2 linked regions of the Homo sapiens genome follow. The gene in region 1 interacts genetically with each later gene. Each region holds a gene or a part of one and is shown in the gene's direction. Other genes may lie near its edges.

What was found.
Region 2: of MAPKAPK2 (region 1) and EGF, changing one enhances a phenotype caused by changing the other (phenotypic enhancement), as found in Homo sapiens cells (one study listed by BioGRID).

Annotation. Positions count from the first base shown.
Region 1 is NC_000001.11:206,679,743-206,688,901, forward strand, and holds the start of MAPKAPK2 (MAP kinase-activated protein kinase 2), read left to right. Parts: upstream 1-5,162; 5' UTR 5,163-5,487; coding exon 5,488-5,766; intron 5,767-5,891; exon of another isoform or gene 5,892-6,115; intron 6,116-9,159. UniProt on the Homo sapiens protein: Stress-activated serine/threonine-protein kinase involved in cytokine production, endocytosis, reorganization of the cytoskeleton, cell migration, cell cycle control, chromatin remodeling, DNA damage response and transcriptional regulation.
Region 2 is NC_000004.12:109,914,911-109,924,016, forward strand, and holds part of EGF (pro-epidermal growth factor isoform 1 preproprotein), read left to right. Parts: intron 1-9,106.

The DNA of each region.
Region 1 (9,159 bases):
AAAAGAATTAGGCATACTGTAGTCCTAATTACTCTCATTTGTAGTCCCTTTGGACCATATTATGTCTGTTGATGTGCAGAGGTGAAGTTTCTGTTCCCCTTTGGGTACTTCCTTCTTTCTCTTTCTATTCGCATTCTTTGCCACTGCCCCAGCTGTTCCCTGCCGTGGCATTAAACTATCAAAGGATGAAGTGCAGATGAGGGCACGGAGGGCACCAAGGGCACCGTGGGTGGGGGAAGGATTTTTCCCCTCTGGGATGTCTTAACTAGGGCATTACCAATGGCACTTGCTATGGGTAGAATTCCTTTCTGTGAGGCAGCCGTTAACACCTTCAGAAAGAGCTAAGATAGAAGGGATGATAGAGGCCATCCTGACCAATATTTTGAGGTCATTTTCTGGGTCAGAAATTTTTGTGACTGAGTCTTATGTATATATATCTGTCACTTTTGCTTTGGGGGAATTTCTCATTTTATCACAGAAATACTAGCCTATGACATGAAGACTATTTCTCTCTGGCTCTAAGCCATTTTTCTTTCCAAGAGTGGGTTTTTAGTGGACAGAGCTTCTTCTGTAAATCATGCTCCTTCTTGCAATATTTTGTTTGCGGTACTAGCAGTGGATACAAAGGCTGCTTTATCTGTGTTCATGCGCAGATCCGCCAGCCTGTGGATGATCCTCACTCATCAAGAGAGTGTTAGCTGAAAATTTCCAAGAGATCCACCTCCATAAATTTCCACCCTCTGTCACTCATTCATAATGCCACGTCATAGTAAAACAGGAAACTTTTACTCCATGATGGTGTGAAGGCTGTGTGGGGGAATCTTGAAGAAAAAGATTGTCACAATGTATCCTATCATATAACCCAGTCATGCAAATTAACATAGACCTATATTCTGTAACAGATTAGGCCAAGATGGAAGGAAATTGAGGTGTGGAAAATTTATGTTGCTCTAAAATGGAAAGAATAGCCCATACCTCTTCAGGCAATTCCTGCCCAGAAATAGCAGATATCATATTTCTGACATTAAGAAGGATATGTGAGTATATGTCTGCTCAGGATCTATAGTAAGGACCATGAGCATGGACTTTGGGTCAGAAAGATTTGGGTCCTGTCCTTCGCTAGTGGAATGACTCTGAGAAAGTTATTTAATTTCTCTGGGACTCAGTTTTCTTGTTTATACAACAGATAAGTGAGGATAACAGTACAGACCTCATAGGGCTGTGTAAGAGTAGGATAAGGTTTGGCTGTGAATGATAGAAAACCTAGACCATCAGTCACTTCAACAAGAAGGCCATTTATTGTTCTTTCATATAAAAGTCTGGGTAGGTGGCTCATTGCTGATATGATGGATCCAGGTTCACCAGTATACAGACTCTTTCTGTCCTTTTGTTCTGTCTTCCTCAACCTGTAACCTCCAATTCACCATCCAAGATGGCTACAGCTGTGAAATTTTTATTCCAGTCAGCAGGAAAGAAAAAAGAGAAGGAGAAGAAGAAGGACATACTTCTTTCCATAAACCACTTCCACTTACAAGTCATTGGTTATAACTTAATCTTATGAATGTAACCGGCTATAGTGGAGGCTGCTCAAGTGGGAAATGTAATTTTTATTCCAGGCAGTCTTGTGCTTAGCTAAATATGGGGTGCTCTTTACTATCAAAGAGAGGAAAAAAAGGTGTTAGCCCACCCAACTAGCAATCTCAGCCACGGATCATCATGAGATTTAAATGAGACAATGCAGGTAGAGGGTTGAGCACAGTGTTGGGCACTCAGGAAGCACTCAAAAAACATTGTCATCGTCATCATCATCATCATCATCAACATCATCATCACCATCATCATGAGAAGGTGAGGAATACTTTGAAACTGTGACAAGGCATTTTCTTATTTTAACCTGGTCTTGCTGCTAACATCACCCTTGGCCACCTCCCTTTTAAGGTGATTTGAGTTTCATCTTTTATGATACCTTTGAACATGCCTTCATGAAACAAAACTATATAAAAAGGAAAGCAAGGGAAAGGTGAACATAGGACTCAGGATGATGGGGTCTTGGGCCATGAAAATGGAGGGGTTGGGGGAGTGTGTGTGGAGGAATCATCTAGTTAGATGTAAATTATTGTCGAAGTTCTAGTTTTTATTTTGGGTAGTGGATTCACAGGTGCTTACTGCATTATTAAAAATAATTATTAACTAACAATAAAAGTGGAGCTGCATGGATCAATGATCCAATGACGAGAGTGTGTCATGAATCAAGGATTATAATTAATCCATTTCTATGTACCTGAGGTCCTTAAATTGTCTTTGTGTGTACTATATTGCATGGCATATGTGTTTGCATGTTAATAGTAGATAAAAATAGTACTTTCTATTTGCATAGACTTTCAAGTTTTAAAGCGCTTTTACACATCCATAAAAACTGTTTATTAAGTAGTTCATTACAGATGGCTAAGAGCCTGGTGTTACACAAATAGGACTTTGGACTGCTTCCTGTAGGAAAGTTTTTATTTTATCCTTGCACAAGCCCTACAAAGTAGGCAAGGCAGATGTTATTGTCACTATTTTGCAGATGAGAAGGAAGGAACTGAGAGAGCAAGGGGCTCTCATGAGGTTACATAGCGAGTCAGTATCAGAATGGAACTTAAGACTCAGGATCTCTTGGCCAGTGCTTCTGCATTTAGCACATCTTACTCCTCAATTATTCATCCACTAGGCGTTTATTCTGTTACATGGCACATTGTGCTCATGTGTTGTGTTCATATATGTGTGTGTTTTCTGGTGCTGTGTGTGCAGTTCATATAATCTCTATCCACTATGTATGTACCCTCAGAGTCCCTGTGTGCCCCCTAGGCCTATTTGGCTCTTGCAGCTCCGGGAGGACTCTCAGGTGGGAATTCAGTTGTCCTGTTATTCCTAGATCATTGGGCCTCACCATCTCCCTGGAGCTCCAGCTAGGTAGGAAAGCAGCTTTGATATCAGGAATAGATCCGTAGGCCATGAGCACAGAGCAGAGGAGCAAGCCAGCAATGTCTAAATAATGGTGATATTTAATATTTCATGATAATGTATAGTTTATGCTTTAGGATGTGTTCTCATAATTACTATTTCATTTTATTCTCTCTCAGCCCCGAAAGTAGATTTTGTTGTTTTTTTCTTTTCTTTTTCAGATGCTGAGAGATGTTACATGTCTTGCTCAAGGTAACCCAGTTGGAGGACAGTCTTGGCTTCAGCTCATTTGTCTCTAGATCCTGTCATCTTACCACTGTGCCTTGCTGCCTCTGAAAAGGCAGAAGGAAGTTATTCTCTTTCTAGCTTTGTGGAGAAAAGCAGGTGATACCTCAACACCAAGCCATAGGGAGCTTCCAGTGACTCTGCAAAGAAAAAAAAGACCAACTCAGACTCCAGAGCAGCCCCACCAGAGCCTGAGCAGTTGGAGCCTTCCACCTTCCCACCCCTGCGTTCCTCTTGTCCTTGGGCATCTCCTGTGTGTGCTTCGGGGAGGTGATAGCAGTGCTATAGAAGTAGTGGAGTGAAGATGTTTTCCTATCCCCGTGGCCTTAGATAGTGTCTTTGTCTTTGAAGAGTCAGGGGCATCTGGGGAGCTGTCTAACCGTATCTATCCTGTAGACTCGGGAGGAAGCTGCTGGCTGCTGTAGACAGAAGAGAATCCCTGTGCTTCGGGCTCCTAGGAAGGTGTCTGCCATCCTCTCTGTGCCACTGTTATCTGTCTTCTTCCCCATCAGATAACACCATCCACCGCTGCAGGGCTGAGCACGGCACCTTGTACATGGAGCTAAGCAGATGCTGCTTGAGAAGAGCATATGTTTGTGTCGGGGGAAACATGTCTCTCCTTGGTCCACAGAGCCCTACCTGCCCCAGGAAAGGACAGTGTTGGGAGGGTAACTCCCACCCCTCACTCCTCCCCCTCATTCCTGCCTCCACAAGCATCTTCTGGGAAAGGTGAATGAGGGAAGAGACATTTGCACTTGTCCCTTACCTACCTAAGTTCTATCCCCAGTGGCCACTTCTGGGGGTGTTGTCTTCTCTCTGGAGTTTTGGGGGACCTATTAGGGGGCATGTGTGGCCATAGGTCAAGCCTCATTCTCTAACTGGCCTTACCAAGACTTAAGCTGAGGTTTTGTGTTCACCTGTCTGGGTTGCTTGCCATTTCTCAAATGTTCTGCCAGTCAGAGGTGGGAGGAGGTCGGCAGGAATGTACTTGGTCATCTCGAACCCCATCAGAATGTGTGTGGAGGCCTCCTGGCAGCTTCTATGCAGGGTCCAGCTAGATCCCTGGGCTTTTCCTGAGATACACGGGGCTAACCCACTTCTTACGGATTAATTTTTCCACATCGGAAATCAGAAGCCATTCCCCAGGGCCTCCCCTTCAGTTTCATTATCTCCTTTGACTCTGCCCACAACCTTTGAAAAGGTCTCGCTGTTCTTCCCACGGAGAGAGAGGTGCAAGGCTTGCTCAGCCTCACACAGCCAATCCGTGGCAAAGGATGGCGGGAATTCAGGTGGCCCCAATCTCAACCCATCCTCTTCCCACCCTGTATCCTTTTTAGTTTATTTACAGGAAAACATGTTCAAAGGTATAATTACTAAAGTGCTCCTGGTTACACAATAATACGTCTTTACTGAAAAACAATAAATTAATGAGAAAAGAGATGCAAAAAACCTCAGAGGAAAATGTTGAAGTTAGGGAAATATTTAATACGCCCGCCTTTGGCTCACACCTTTTCCTGGGATGAATGACCCCTGTGATTCCAGCTCCCCCCCACCCCCACGAGGTCTCATCTAGCTGGATACCTACAAGCCATCCCTGTCCTTGGAAATACACCCCTCTCCCAATTCGCTGCCGCTAAGAAGCCCAGACAATTGGAGAGGAGTGGATTTTCCATCTGAATTATGCAGCTCCTTTGACACGCCTCCCCTCTCCCTTTGCATAGCCTTGGTTAAGAACTAGCATTTCTTCGTCCCCTCTCCCTGTCCCCTCTCACTGTCCGCGAGGCAGCAGCCCCCAGCCTACTCCGCGATCCTCCCAGCTCCCGGCACCGCGCGTCCTCCCCTTTAAGGCCCGCCCCTCCCCCCACGCCACGCCTCCCCAGGCCCCGCCCCCCGCCCCTCCCCTTTAAGGACCGGCCCCGGACGCAGACGAGGCTGTGACGCGGCCGCCGGCCCGGGGCTGGGTACATTGTCGCGCGGCCGCTTCCCCCCGGCCGGGCCCCCGCCGCCCCGCGGTCCCCAGAGCGCCAGGCCCCCGGGGGGAGGGAGGGAGGGCGCCGGGCCGGTGGGAGCCAGCGGCGCGCGGTGGGACCCACGGAGCCCCGCGACCCGCCGAGCCTGGAGCCGGGCCGGGTCGGGGAAGCCGGCTCCAGCCCGGAGCGAACTTCGCAGCCCGTCGGGGGGCGGCGGGGAGGGGGCCCGGAGCCGGAGGAGGGGGCGGCCGCGGGCACCCCCGCCTGTGCCCCGGCGTCCCCGGGCACCATGCTGTCCAACTCCCAGGGCCAGAGCCCGCCGGTGCCGTTCCCCGCCCCGGCCCCGCCGCCGCAGCCCCCCACCCCTGCCCTGCCGCACCCCCCGGCGCAGCCGCCGCCGCCGCCCCCGCAGCAGTTCCCGCAGTTCCACGTCAAGTCCGGCCTGCAGATCAAGAAGAACGCCATCATCGATGACTACAAGGTCACCAGCCAGGTCCTGGGGCTGGGCATCAACGGCAAAGTTTTGCAGATCTTCAACAAGAGGACCCAGGAGAAATTCGCCCTCAAAGTAGGTCTGGGGCCCGGGGAGGGGAGGCGGGGCCGGTCCCGGGCCCTGGAGCTCCACGGCGTCGGGTGCCCGTCCCGGCCTGGGTCGCGGCGCGGGGCGGAGGGGTGGCCGCGGCGGGGCGGGGCGGGGCGGCCGGGCCGGCGGTGCCGAGTGCGGCGCGGGCGGCGGGTCCCAGCGCCCTCGCCTCCCTGACCGCTTCCGGCCGCTCCCGGGCGGGAGCCCTGGGACCCGCTCCTGGGGACTCAGGGGACCCTGCCATTTTGGGGTTTGAGCGGGATCCAGCCGAGTCAGAACGGTTGGCTTCGGGACTTCTGCTAATTTCACTCCATCTCAAGGAAGTGATTTTGGGGTTGGTGGTTCCCCGTCCTCTCCTCCCTCCTTTTTCTCTCTCTGCGGGCACAAAAGGCCCATTACTCATTGAGCCGGTTGGTCGGTTGGTTTGGAGAAGTCGGATCGCAGAGGTTTATTTAGCCTCGCTCCTTATTTGGGAGCCGGAATGTGTGATTTCACTTCCCCGAGCCTCGCGAGGGCAGCCGGGCCGCCTTGGGGCGCGCCGGGCAGGAGGTGTGCGGCGGGAGGGTCCTGGGTGTCCCCCGGCTGCGGGGGCGGGATTATTTGGATCCCGGAGCTGGCCCCCTCAGCTGGCCCCCTCCCACGCCCGCGCGGGGCGGCTCCGGGGAGAGGCCGGCGGTGTCCGCGGCCCGGCTGATCATTGTGAACAGAGTCTGTAACCCGCGGCCGGGCCCGTGCTGATTCCGCCTCCTAGAGAGGGCCACTTGCTGTCCTGGACTCGCGCCGTGATGGGCAGTCTGAGGAAACATTATCCTTGAGCCGGGGGAGCCCATCCCTTTTCTTTCTTTAAGGGGTGTGGTGGTGGGGAGAATAAGGATTCAAGTGAGAATATCGACTTCAGAAGTTAAACACAATGGACTGGGAGGTCTCATGAGATGGGTGGGTCCGCAGTGAAGTGTGAGCCGGTCTTGCAGGGTCACCAACAAGGTTTTCCTCTCACAGGGGTTTCAGGTCAAACCAATCTCTAAAGGTGACGCCTCAGGTCTGTTTCCCCTGGGGTGTCTCAATGATTGGAGGAGGAGAAAAATACTTCCTGTGTTATATTTTTCTCTTCCCCTTCAGCCCCCACAGCGAGCTGTATTTCAGTTGTCAAGTACAAAACTCAGAAATGTGGTATGGGTGGAACTATTGGAATATACGATCAGATGTTTTAAAAGAAACACCAGTACTTCGGGGTTGTACGGGGCAAGCATGTTCCATTTCTAGATTTTAAGGCCTCTAGAATTGTTTTCCTGCTGCTCTCATACTCAACCCTGTTACAGTGCTTTGCTTTCTACTGTAAGTTATTGCTCTGGGATCTCGGTTGTTGTTTAGTGTTGACTGTTGGAGAGGGGATAAGTATCTTCAACACTTCAACATTTGTGTCTTAGACTTCTCTTTCCCTACTCATAACTGAAGGGAAAGGAGGAGGAGGAGTTGTTTGGATTGAGCATGGCTCTGACCTTGGGGACTGGAGTTGGGTGAATACAGTTTGACCACAGTTAACCTGTATCATTGAGGAAGTGACAGACGGTCTTTACAGGAGTGTTTGCTGTCCCCTCTGAGACACCATCTGCCTTCACCCATTAGTAGTTTGGGGACACTGGCTGTTCATTCTCTTGGATATTTGGAATATTATGTAAAGACTTCAGAACAAAAGCTCCCAACTTCTGCTCTGTATTCTGTTTAATAGACACACGCACAAAATCATCCTATAAAATGCTTTTGAGTGGCAATTCAGATTTCTCTTGTAACTAACGAGAGAGAGGTTTACATATTTTTCTACTTTGAATAGTTTTGGAAGGAAAAATCCAGCAGCGTGTTAAATAACACTCATAGTTTATCCCTCTCAGGTTAGAAGTGGGCGAAGAGTGAAGTCAGTCTGTTTTGACAGGCAGCCTGCTCCCAGATCTTTTAAGTTGACTCAACTGTTAAATTGTGGATTTCCCACACACGTCTTTGTGTTAAAACTTAATAATGGAGGAAGAAAGGAGAGACAAGGCATTTGGAGACTGACAGCAGTGTTAACAGCACTTCCATATCCAAATATTGGCTGAGACATAATTACAGCTGTGGGGGGAATCTGGTTCAAAGAACGCTGTTCCAGAGACACACACCAAAGAGATTTCTAGATCTTGAATTTTGATTAACCTCAGGTGCTGAGTAGTGAAATGGTTTTCAAAACCAGAAGTCTAGTGATTATAAAGCAGGAGAGGAAGATGGAGTGGGGCAAGAGGGATTACCCCCTTGGGAAGGTGCCTGAGAAAAGGGGAGGAGACCTCTATTCTACAGTGTGCCGAGGCCAATGCTGGGGGCTAGGGCAGAGCTGGAGGGCAGGAGCCCAGCCTCTGCTGGGGTTCAGAAGTCTGCTATGTTGCAGCCCTGAGAGTTGATGGGAGCTGGCAGCTGCTTAGATGCTCTCCTCTCTGCCTATAGTCGGTGACCTCTTAGCCCTGTTAAGTGAAATCAGCATTTGAAAAAGAGTCCCAGCTCACCCTGCTGCTTCTCTCCCTCCACCTCAGAGAGCTCCCATTTAAATGCTTTTGGTGGGTGCTTTGACCTCACCTCACCATCTCTCCTGGCTGCTTTTGCTAAGTTCTGAGTCATGCTTCCAGTCAGAGTTGCAAGGGACTTGAAAGGTCATTTTGTCCAGCCCCCTTATTTTGCAGAAGAGAAAACCAAGGCCCAGAGTGAGGGAGTGACTTGTTCAAGGTACCATAGCCATTCACTTGGCAGAGGCAGGATTGGAACCCAGGTTGCCTGACTCCCAGTCTCAGGCTTCTTCCCACTTACTTCCTAACTGAGCCACGGGCTCAGGCACATGGCCACCTGCTGCTCCAGGGTGCTTCCAGCCTGAGGAGCTGTTCTGTCACCTCAGGCCCTGACTGACAAGAGGGGAGGTCAGCGAAGGGGGCTGGATGGGTATTTGCTGCTCCTGAGAACAGTCCCCAAAGTTGGAGGGGAACTTCAACAGTAGCTTCATGCATTTTTTTAACCACTCCCTCCCCCTTTTAAGAGAGTATTTGATAGGCACCTTACTTACTATTTTTTGTACAAGAACATGGGAATTCTATTATTTTTATTTTTATTTTTTTTGAGACAGAGTGTTGCTCTGTCGCCCAGGTTAGAGTGCAGTAGCACGATCTTGGCTCACTGCAAGCTCTGCTTCCCAGGTCCACGCCATTCTGCCTCAGCCTCCTGAGTAGCTGGGACTACAGGCGCCCGTCACCATGCCCGGCTAATTTTTTGTATTTTTAGTAGAGATGGGGTTTCACTGTGTTATTCAGGATGGTCTTGATCTCCTGACCTCGTGATCTGCCTGCCTCAGCCTGCCTAAGTGCT
Region 2 (9,106 bases), on another chromosome or scaffold:
ATGGGATGTGAGGGGTGATGGTTGGGCCGATCTATCAGGCAGCCAGAAGCTAGGAAAGAAGAACCCAGGTTGCTGAAGCAGAACCCAAGAAATTACAAAAATGAGCTTTTATGGATGGCTCTAGGATCTCAGAATAGTCTGATTCCTGCTGGCAAGCAAGTCTATGCCTTGTTTTCCTTGCCACCTCTGGTGGCTCAGAAGTGCCTTCATTGAGGTAGGTTGTACCCAATAAACATGAAACCCAGGATAGAAACAATAAGTTGGGGAGACTGTGTCACAGAGTGGAAGGAACCACAGGTTTTAGAAACAAACAAGCCTCATTTCATATCCATGCTACCAACTTAATAGCTGAGTTACTTTAGAGTATCTCTGGGAAATAATACCCTCGCCCACTGCTTTTAGGATTTTTTTGTGGGGAATCACATGAGATAACCTAGCATGTACCAAAGCATGGTGCTTAGCAGAGTATGCTCAATAAATGTCCTCCTGGGCTCCACGTCTTGGCTAAATCTCTGATCAAGTCATACGATGAGATGCCGTATTTGAACAGTGCAGTGACACGGCACAGATCCATGGAGTGTGGAATGTGTGGATGGCACTTTGGGATTCCCTGCCTCTCTGCTACCTCATTTCTTGCAAGTCACTGGTTTAAATCCCGTACTTTACGCTCCTGGTCTCATGTTAGCTGATAACTGCCTGGGTCACCCTTTGTCAGTCACTGTGTGCATTTCAGAGGATAGTATTTCTTTCTCCTCTCTAAATAGATATGGTGCCATCATCTATTTTTCCCTCATTTAAATTCTACTTGCCTTATTTCTTGCCCTTGGCATTGAGACAGATCACCTCTGCAGCCACCTGACCCAGCAGGAAGAATGCTTTATGGTCTAACAGTATTCAGGTAAACTTATGCAAGATTGTTACTCATGTGACTGCTAGCCGGATAAACCAAGTGATAGCAACACAATTAGGTTTCTTTCTATTCCCCTCCCTCTCCCTCCTTTTAACTGAGTATTCTGTTAGCGTCTACTTGAGCTACAGCAGGTGAGGACAGCAGGAAAGAAAACTGCTGGCAAGTGGTTTCTGAACCTTCAAGTCTATTTACCCTGGAGGACAAATAACAGTTGAAAAAGAAATTGTTCCTGTTTGGCTTCTGTACCTGCATTATTTATATGAACTTTTTTGGTAATAAAGGGTAAGGAAGAAGTACAGCCTCCCAGCTGCGGGAGGGATCCTGGGGTGGCACTAAGTTATCACTTTTAGTAGTAAACAGTGAAATCAGTGATTTCAGTACCGGCTAAGGCGTGGTCAGCATCCCAGTCATGTGCAAACCAGAGTAATTCTGAGACCAGAAGCTTGTCTGTTTTTTCAGCCAGGGTTATGCGATTTTTTTTCTTTTTTTCTAACAGCAGTGAAACTAACCTCCAAATATTCAGTGGTGTTTGGTCATTGAGCTTAGTGGTAAAGAAGCATAAATTTTGGAGACAGATTTCTTGCCTGGATTCAAATCCCATTTCTGCTGCTTGTGAACTGTTTGTCTCATTTTCCTTACCCTAAAATGAAGATAATTGTACCCTCTTCCGAGGACTCTTGTCAGTATTGCGTTAATGTATTCATTTTCAGTGCTGGCTGTGCATTAGAATCACTAATGTCTGGGTGGCCACCCCGGGCAGTCTGGATCAGAGTCTCTTCTGGGAGTGGAATCTAGGCCTTATTTTTTTTTAATGTGGTGATTCTAACCAACAGCCTGGGTTAGAACCACTGAGTTAATATATGTAAAGTGCACAAAACAGAGCTTGGCATACAATAAACACTCGATAAGCCCGAGATTCTATTAATGTTTTGTTGTTTTAAAAATTATTTTTATGAATGTAATGGTATTTTCTAAATGTGGCTTGGTTTCGCCTATAATCATCGAACATTTTTTATACATGACAAAATGCCATAGTGAAAAACCCAATAATAGTTCTACAACATTAAAAATTATAGTCAAAATAATTTAAAAATACATAACTCATATTTTTGTAATCAGAAGAAATGTTTATTAAAAATACAAGAACATGTCAACTTGATTTGAGTAAGTACCTTTGTGAAACTGTGGCTCTGGTGTTTGTCTTTTTCTTATACCAACTGATAAAAAATTTCATTCATTGCAAATTAACTCTGTTCGTCGGGTTTCTTACCGGTAATAATCTTATTTTAACAGCAGCAAAAACAAGCCACTTGAAAGTGATAGCGATTATTTCAGTTTTTTGCATATTTTTGCCCATGTGTGGAACCCTTCCCTTGTGGATTTTTAAAGCTATTAAAAGCATATAAAAATGGTAAATTAGTTTTCTCAGTTAATTTACATTTTGGGGCTAATTTGAGCTTGTCAAAATATTTGACATTCAATTTAGAAGTTGCTTGTGTTCATGGTAGAGCAAGTAATTGATTGTTTCTATCAAAAGTAAACAGACTAATAATTTGGCTCAAGCAAATTAAAAACCTTACTTTATAATTTACAAATCTGCCTTTATGAAAATCCATTTCAAATTATTCCTTGGGTAGTATGGTTGGTTGGAGGTTTTTTAGCTTTTAGTTTTTGTCTTTTTTTTTTAATTTCAATTTTTACTTTACATTCAGGTGTACATGTGGAGGTTTGTTACAAGGGGATATTGTGTGATGGTGAGGTTTGGGCTTCTATTGATCCCATGTGATCAGTTGGTTTTTTATTTTTATTTTTATTTTTTGAGACAGGTTTTGCTCTGTCGCCCAGGCTGGAGTACAGTGGCATGATCTTGGCTCACTGCAACCTCCGCCTCCCAGGTTCAAGCAATTCTCCTGTCTCAGCCTCCTGAGTAGTTGGGATTACAGGCATATGCCACCACACCTGCTAATTTTTGTATTTTTAGTAGAGATGGGGTTTCATCATGTTGGCCAGGCTGGTCTCGAACTCCTGACCTCAAGTGATCAGCCCACCTCAGCCTCCCAAAGTGCTGGGATTACAGGCATGAGCCACCACGACTGGCCTCAGTTGGTTTATTAAATCAGTACTCTCCAGACTCCGTTCCATCAGTAAAATAATTAAAATGTAAGCATATGCTTCTAATAAACACATTTACTTATCAATTACATACATGTAATATGTACACTGTACACATGAACATGTGTATGTAATGAACATTACACAACAAATAACGTATCTAATATTTTCTTTCTACACAATAGCAAACCATCTTACATAGCCTCTATGTGATATACACCCTCCTTGGAAGATAGTTTTAGAAAATAAGTGAAATGGTAGAATAAACGTTTACCTTTTCTTCACTATAAGCTCTGTTCCTTTCTCTTGATTGCTAGGTGTGGTTTTTTTTTTTTTTTTAAATTTCAAGTAAAGGTGGGTTATTCATAGCGAATGACTTTTCTCAGAGTGTGTAATGGTAGAAACAGAAATGCGTGTGGTTGTGCTGAGATTCTTCCGGAAGGAGTGGAAGGCCAGATGATGTTCCTGAGGGGGACCTGGAGTTTGAGAAATGCCCAAGTCCTGTGGCTTGCTGGGCTCAGCATCTATTTAAATTAAAGTGACCTGCACCTCTATCATATGTTCCAGGAAACCCAATGTCTCTCTCCTCTGTCTTGGAAGATGCTGGAGGTGGGGGCTGTGATGAGGAAGGCAAGGCTATGTGTCCCTTCTGGGCCTCCTACTGAATGATTCATCTACTGTGTGTCTCACTGCCCTCATGTACTGTCCCTTTCCCATACTTCACCACCTCACACCAGCCACCACCCTGTCTCACTTACTTCTTGAAAGAACGAGGAAACAATTGTTATGAGCTGTGAGGGGACAGACTTTACCTGAAGGTTTGCTGTTGGGAGGGTTGGGGCAAGGGCAGGGGCTGCTTACATCCCAGCGCTTCCAACAACAAAGTAAAACATTTTTCATTCCTGTTCCTAAAAGTGACACAAGGTCATCTGTGGAAGGGACTTGCCAGACATCTCTTTTTCTTGGGCCTTAGTCTTCCACCACATGAGCGAAACCCTCTTTCTCCCACAGTGATACTGACCTGCACCTTGGCCGCTTTCCTGGGCCTCCTTAATCTACTTCAGACCATCCATATCCTTCTGCAGAACATTTTAGATTTCTTCTTCCTCCAATTTTGCTTTTCTGATCATATCCGAGACTTGCCTTTTTAAATGAAAATAACTTCAAAAACTATTAAATAGTGAGCTGATGTGTTTTGCTAAACAAAAACAGTTGTGTACTCCTTTGAGAATTTCTGGCTCCTGATTTCAAAGTAATCATTTTTCTTTTCCTTCTACAATGGGAGATGTTAATTTTGAGACAGAAGTGAAGATTCTTGTAGGCAGTCCCAGGTATTAGGAATGCATGCTTCTCTGTCTCTCTCTCTCTCTCTCTCTCTCTCTCTCTCTCTCTCTCTCTCTCTCTCTCTCATCTCTCTCTCTCTCTCATCTCTCTCTCCCTCTGTCTGTATCTCTCTCTGTCCTGTATTCTGAGTCTGGGAAGGGACTACTGCACTTTGGGGCTGGGGAGTGCCTTTACTTTGGCTTGATGGACATAAGTCATAAGTAAGGCAGGGCACTGACTTGAAAAGAGACTTTAACAGGTCTGGTCATGGCCAGTGATTGTGAGTTATACTATAGGTTGTCCTCCTCCCCTCTCCACAATTCTTAAAGAGGACTTCAGTAAAAGTTAGACATTGATCTCACTTGTGCTCAGGTGAAATGGTACATGAGTGACAGGTAGGGGGGAACTACTTCCAGGAGCACTGTGGCCTCACATTGGTGTGGCCAGAGATCAAGGAGATCAGAGGAGAGCTCTTGATGGGGTAAGGATGAGAGAGGTAGGCCCCGGAATCTCTCAGAAAGGTCTAGGATGGAAAGATTTTAAAGAAGGCTAATTTCCAGCAATTTGCTTGTGGTGGCATGGTCCAAAAAATTTCACTATAAAAAAGAAATGTGCCCTTATTTAGTAGTTACTGACTGGACAGGTCAAGTGTAAACGATACACATCTGTAAATAGAGAAGTATGCTCAGAATATTCCCTAGTCAGTCAGTGGTCTGCTATTGGGAGCATCAAATAGTTTGGCTTGTGAATCAGTACAATGTCTTTTATTTTTATCGTTGATGCATAGGTTTCATTTAACAAATTCATATAGATGAATTTATAAGTTGTTTTTTAATCCATACAGAGTTAAAAAGTCAAACATTGAACCTCAGATGAAAGGTAACAAAGATTTCTTACCTGGAAAATAAGTCTTCTAAAATCTGTTCGAAGTCCTTAAACTTTTTGTCACTTTGATTACAATAGAGGAAACTCGGAGAACCTAGCAACTTTCCAATGTAAATTGCCTGATCTAAGCTATTTTAGCAATTATTGTACAGAAGTAGTTTTTATAAACTTATTGCAAACAAAACAATTAAAGACTCAATAACTATCCTCAATAGCTGGAAATGACTGCATTGGAGAGCGTTTTCAAAATAGTCAGTTTTTAAGAAACAAATCACTTTATCTCACTGGTGTGGCCAGAGGTCGAGGAGAACAGGGGAGAGCACTTGATGGGGCGAGGAGAAGAGAGGCAGGCCCTGGAATCTCTCAGAAAGGTCTAGGTCAGTTTTAAAGAAAGAAATCACGTTCTTTTAAAGGATTCCTAAATCTTTTTCAAGAAATTTTAAATTCCAGGAAGCAGTTTAGTGCTTAGTTTAATTATTACTCCAAATTTGGGCCATCCTAGAGCTAGTAAACAAAATATTAGTCTTATTATGTTATAGTTTCTCATGTGAGAATTAGAATTAACTTTAAGAAAGAACCAGAAACAACAACAGCAACTACAGAGATCCTGACCATTGGAATGTAATTGTCCCCATTGTCTATTTACTTCTTGCCTACAGGCCAGCGCTTTCCTCCAGAATGCTAATATTGTTCACCATGAAGGAAGTATTGCCTAGATATTAGGTGAACTAAGAACTAGATTCACTTTGTAGAGATTCTTTATTACCACTGAGGTGGTTGTGCACACGGCCATCCCAGGCCCTTCCCAGATGTCCTGTTTGCTGGGGCTCATGACAAGATGACTGAGAGTCAGGTCTGGAAGGATGAATACTATTATTGCCAGGTGTAGACGAAGAAAAAATTTCACTGAACAGAAGGGATCTTTACACTTCTTGAAAGATCTTACTATCTCTGAAAATGTTTTACTCTCTTGTTTTATATGGCCAAAGTTAATAACTTCCAAAGGCAATTGTGGAATAATGCTTGTCAATATGTCTTTCTTTAGGAGATGTTCTATTTCTTAAGAGCATCTTCCAGAGCTTTCTTCTCAATTCTGGGAATTAGCAAATGTATAGAAACTTCAGTTGTTTTAGCCAAATACAAGGCAGAAACTTCTACTCTCATCACCTGTTGACCTCCTTGCTAAGTCTGGAATCTGAATTGGTGTGAGCATCTGTTTTTTTTTTTATTCTGACTTGATTTTCTGATTCTCCCAAGTTGACCAAACATACTAATGCCTCTCACTGTCTGGGTTTCCCAAGTATTTCCCAGGACATTCAGTACACTGGAATTTGTGTGTGTGTGTGAAGGTATTTGAGAGCCAGCCAACTGCTGTGACAGTGATTCATGGTAGGCACTAATTTATTTGCAAAGCTTCTTCCCAGTGATGTAAGAGTCCTTTTGGAGAAAAGCACTGCCTCCTTCCTCCATTCAGACTAACTTCCCAGGGTGCTATGGACCAGCTTTGTGTGCAGTAAGGGAATTACATCCATGAGGTGGTTCTTTCTGTGGGTAGGTGGTTGCTAGGATACAGATAGTCACAACAGCATCACGGCAGCTGCCTTGTTCTTCAGCACATGGTGTATCAGTTGAGAAATAGTGTTTTATTTCATTCACTCCAACACTTTTCTGGTTAAAATTTTAAAAGCTTGAAGGAGGATCTTTCTTTTTCACACACACCATTCTTGTATAAACAGGTCAAAAACAGATTAGTCAAACTGAACATTGTCATAATACATGCCGGTTGACACCAATCCTCTGCTCTTCCAGCCCAGGCCTTCCCTTACGAGGTTTAAAAACATGCTGAAGGGTTGAAGCTACCAAGGGTCTTCTGGTGTTTTTCTCCCTTCCTCTGAAGTGCATAATTATTCTGTTTACTGGAAGATTTTCAACACAAAGGAAATTAACTTCTCCTTGGTGTGCAAGGAAATTGCAAAGGTTATTGTCATTAATGTTAATTTACCCACTATATCTTTTAGATTCAAGCAACATTGTTTAGAATGGTCAATGCTCTAAGTGGATCAAAAGGCTTATTATTTTTTGGAAGACAAATTTGAAAAACCTGCTGGAACTTTTATCTCTCCTGGTTACTCTAATGAATCATGGCAAAGATTTCATGTAAGTGGGAAAAAATGAGGTATTTGAAGAAAAATGTTCATCTAGGATTTCAATCCATTAAAAAGCACACAATCATGGACACCTACCTACAAGAGGATAAGTGACTGTCTTTCAATACTGACATGTTGTCTTCTGAGACAGGAGCTAATAGAAATATATAGCGCATGACATCCTCTTTAACATGAGCTATGTTGACACATATGAAGTTACTGGGTTTATTACTTCCAAGAGAGGCAGTGCCATTTTCAAACAAAGGATACATTTTAAGCAGAGTGAATTCTGGTTGGTTCTTTATACAGTGGGTTGATCTTGTCACACAGGCAAAAATGGAGCAGTTTTGGGCAGATGGTTCTAGTGTTACGCTTGCTTGTTGCCTTACTTTGCAAGAAGAAGTTCTCTCATCTTTGGTCAACGCCCTATGTCTGGCATGTCATGTTAGGCCTCAGCTTTTGAAATTGATAGGGTCTAATTCTGGAGCTGATATAAGCTGTTAATACCTACCTCTTAGATTGCTATGAGTACTAAATGGATTAATTCTTGTAAAATGCTTAGAATCTTAGCTGACGCAGTGAGTTATCAGCAAATATTGGCTATTACTCTCTACCAAAAACCATAAATGAGACATATTAGAAACATTTTCTATAATTTTTATAATACCTGTTTCTTCAAATTTTCAACAATGCTTAGAGAAGTCGGTTTCCTGGGATGAGCTAAGTCCTAAAAACTATCTTAACCAGCAGGTTCTTTGTGATTTTTAAAAATTATCCTTTTTATTATCCTAACATGTGACAAAACTCCCCATTAATTATTTTTTTTAAATAGTTAATCTTGCTATTTGTTACATATGTCTTCAAGAGAATTATATAAAATATTTTTTATGTATATTTATATAGCTGTACCTATAGGTATATATGTATATAGGTAAGGCCCAGAACTTAATGACCAGTGTAGGATTAATGAGAACAGTGAAACTGGGCTCAGGAAATAGCAATACGCCAACACTTCTTAATTTTACCTCATTTTTGTCTATTTGTCTAGAACACTCAGGATATAGTATCTATAGGCAAATATTTATGTGTTTATCCTTGCAATTTGAGAAACTAAATTTAAAGCTGGTTAAAAAAGAGAGAAGATAATTGTATTCAGTATAAATGAGACTTACACCAAATTTTGTACCTCCAATAAATTTGTTATAGATTTAATCAGTAGATTAATTTTTAGAATTCCTTTAGAAAGTTGAGTGTTTAGTGTCACTTAGGGGGAAGTTATTTAAGTTATTGTTTTACTTCATTTAGTAGGACTCATGATGACATATTTTAAAATTATTTTTATTATTTTTTGAGACAGGGTCTCACTCTTGTCACCCAGGCTGGAGGGCAATGGCACAATCAAAGCACACTGCAGCCTTGACTTCCTGAGCTCAGGTGATGCTTCCACATCAGCTTCCTAAGTAGCTGGAACTACAGGTGTACGCCAGCACACCCAACTAGTTTCTGTATTTTTAGTAGAGACAGGATTTCGCCATGTTGCCCAGGCTGGTCTTGAACTCCTGGGCCCAAGAGAGCCACCCACCTTGGCCTCCCAAAGTGCTGGGATTATAGGTGTGAGCCACCACGCCTGGCCTATGACACTTTATTGATTTCATATTTGAAGTTCCAAGAAACAAAGAAGGAAACAATTCACAGAAAGTAGAGGTTAAGGTGAATAATATTTATGTAG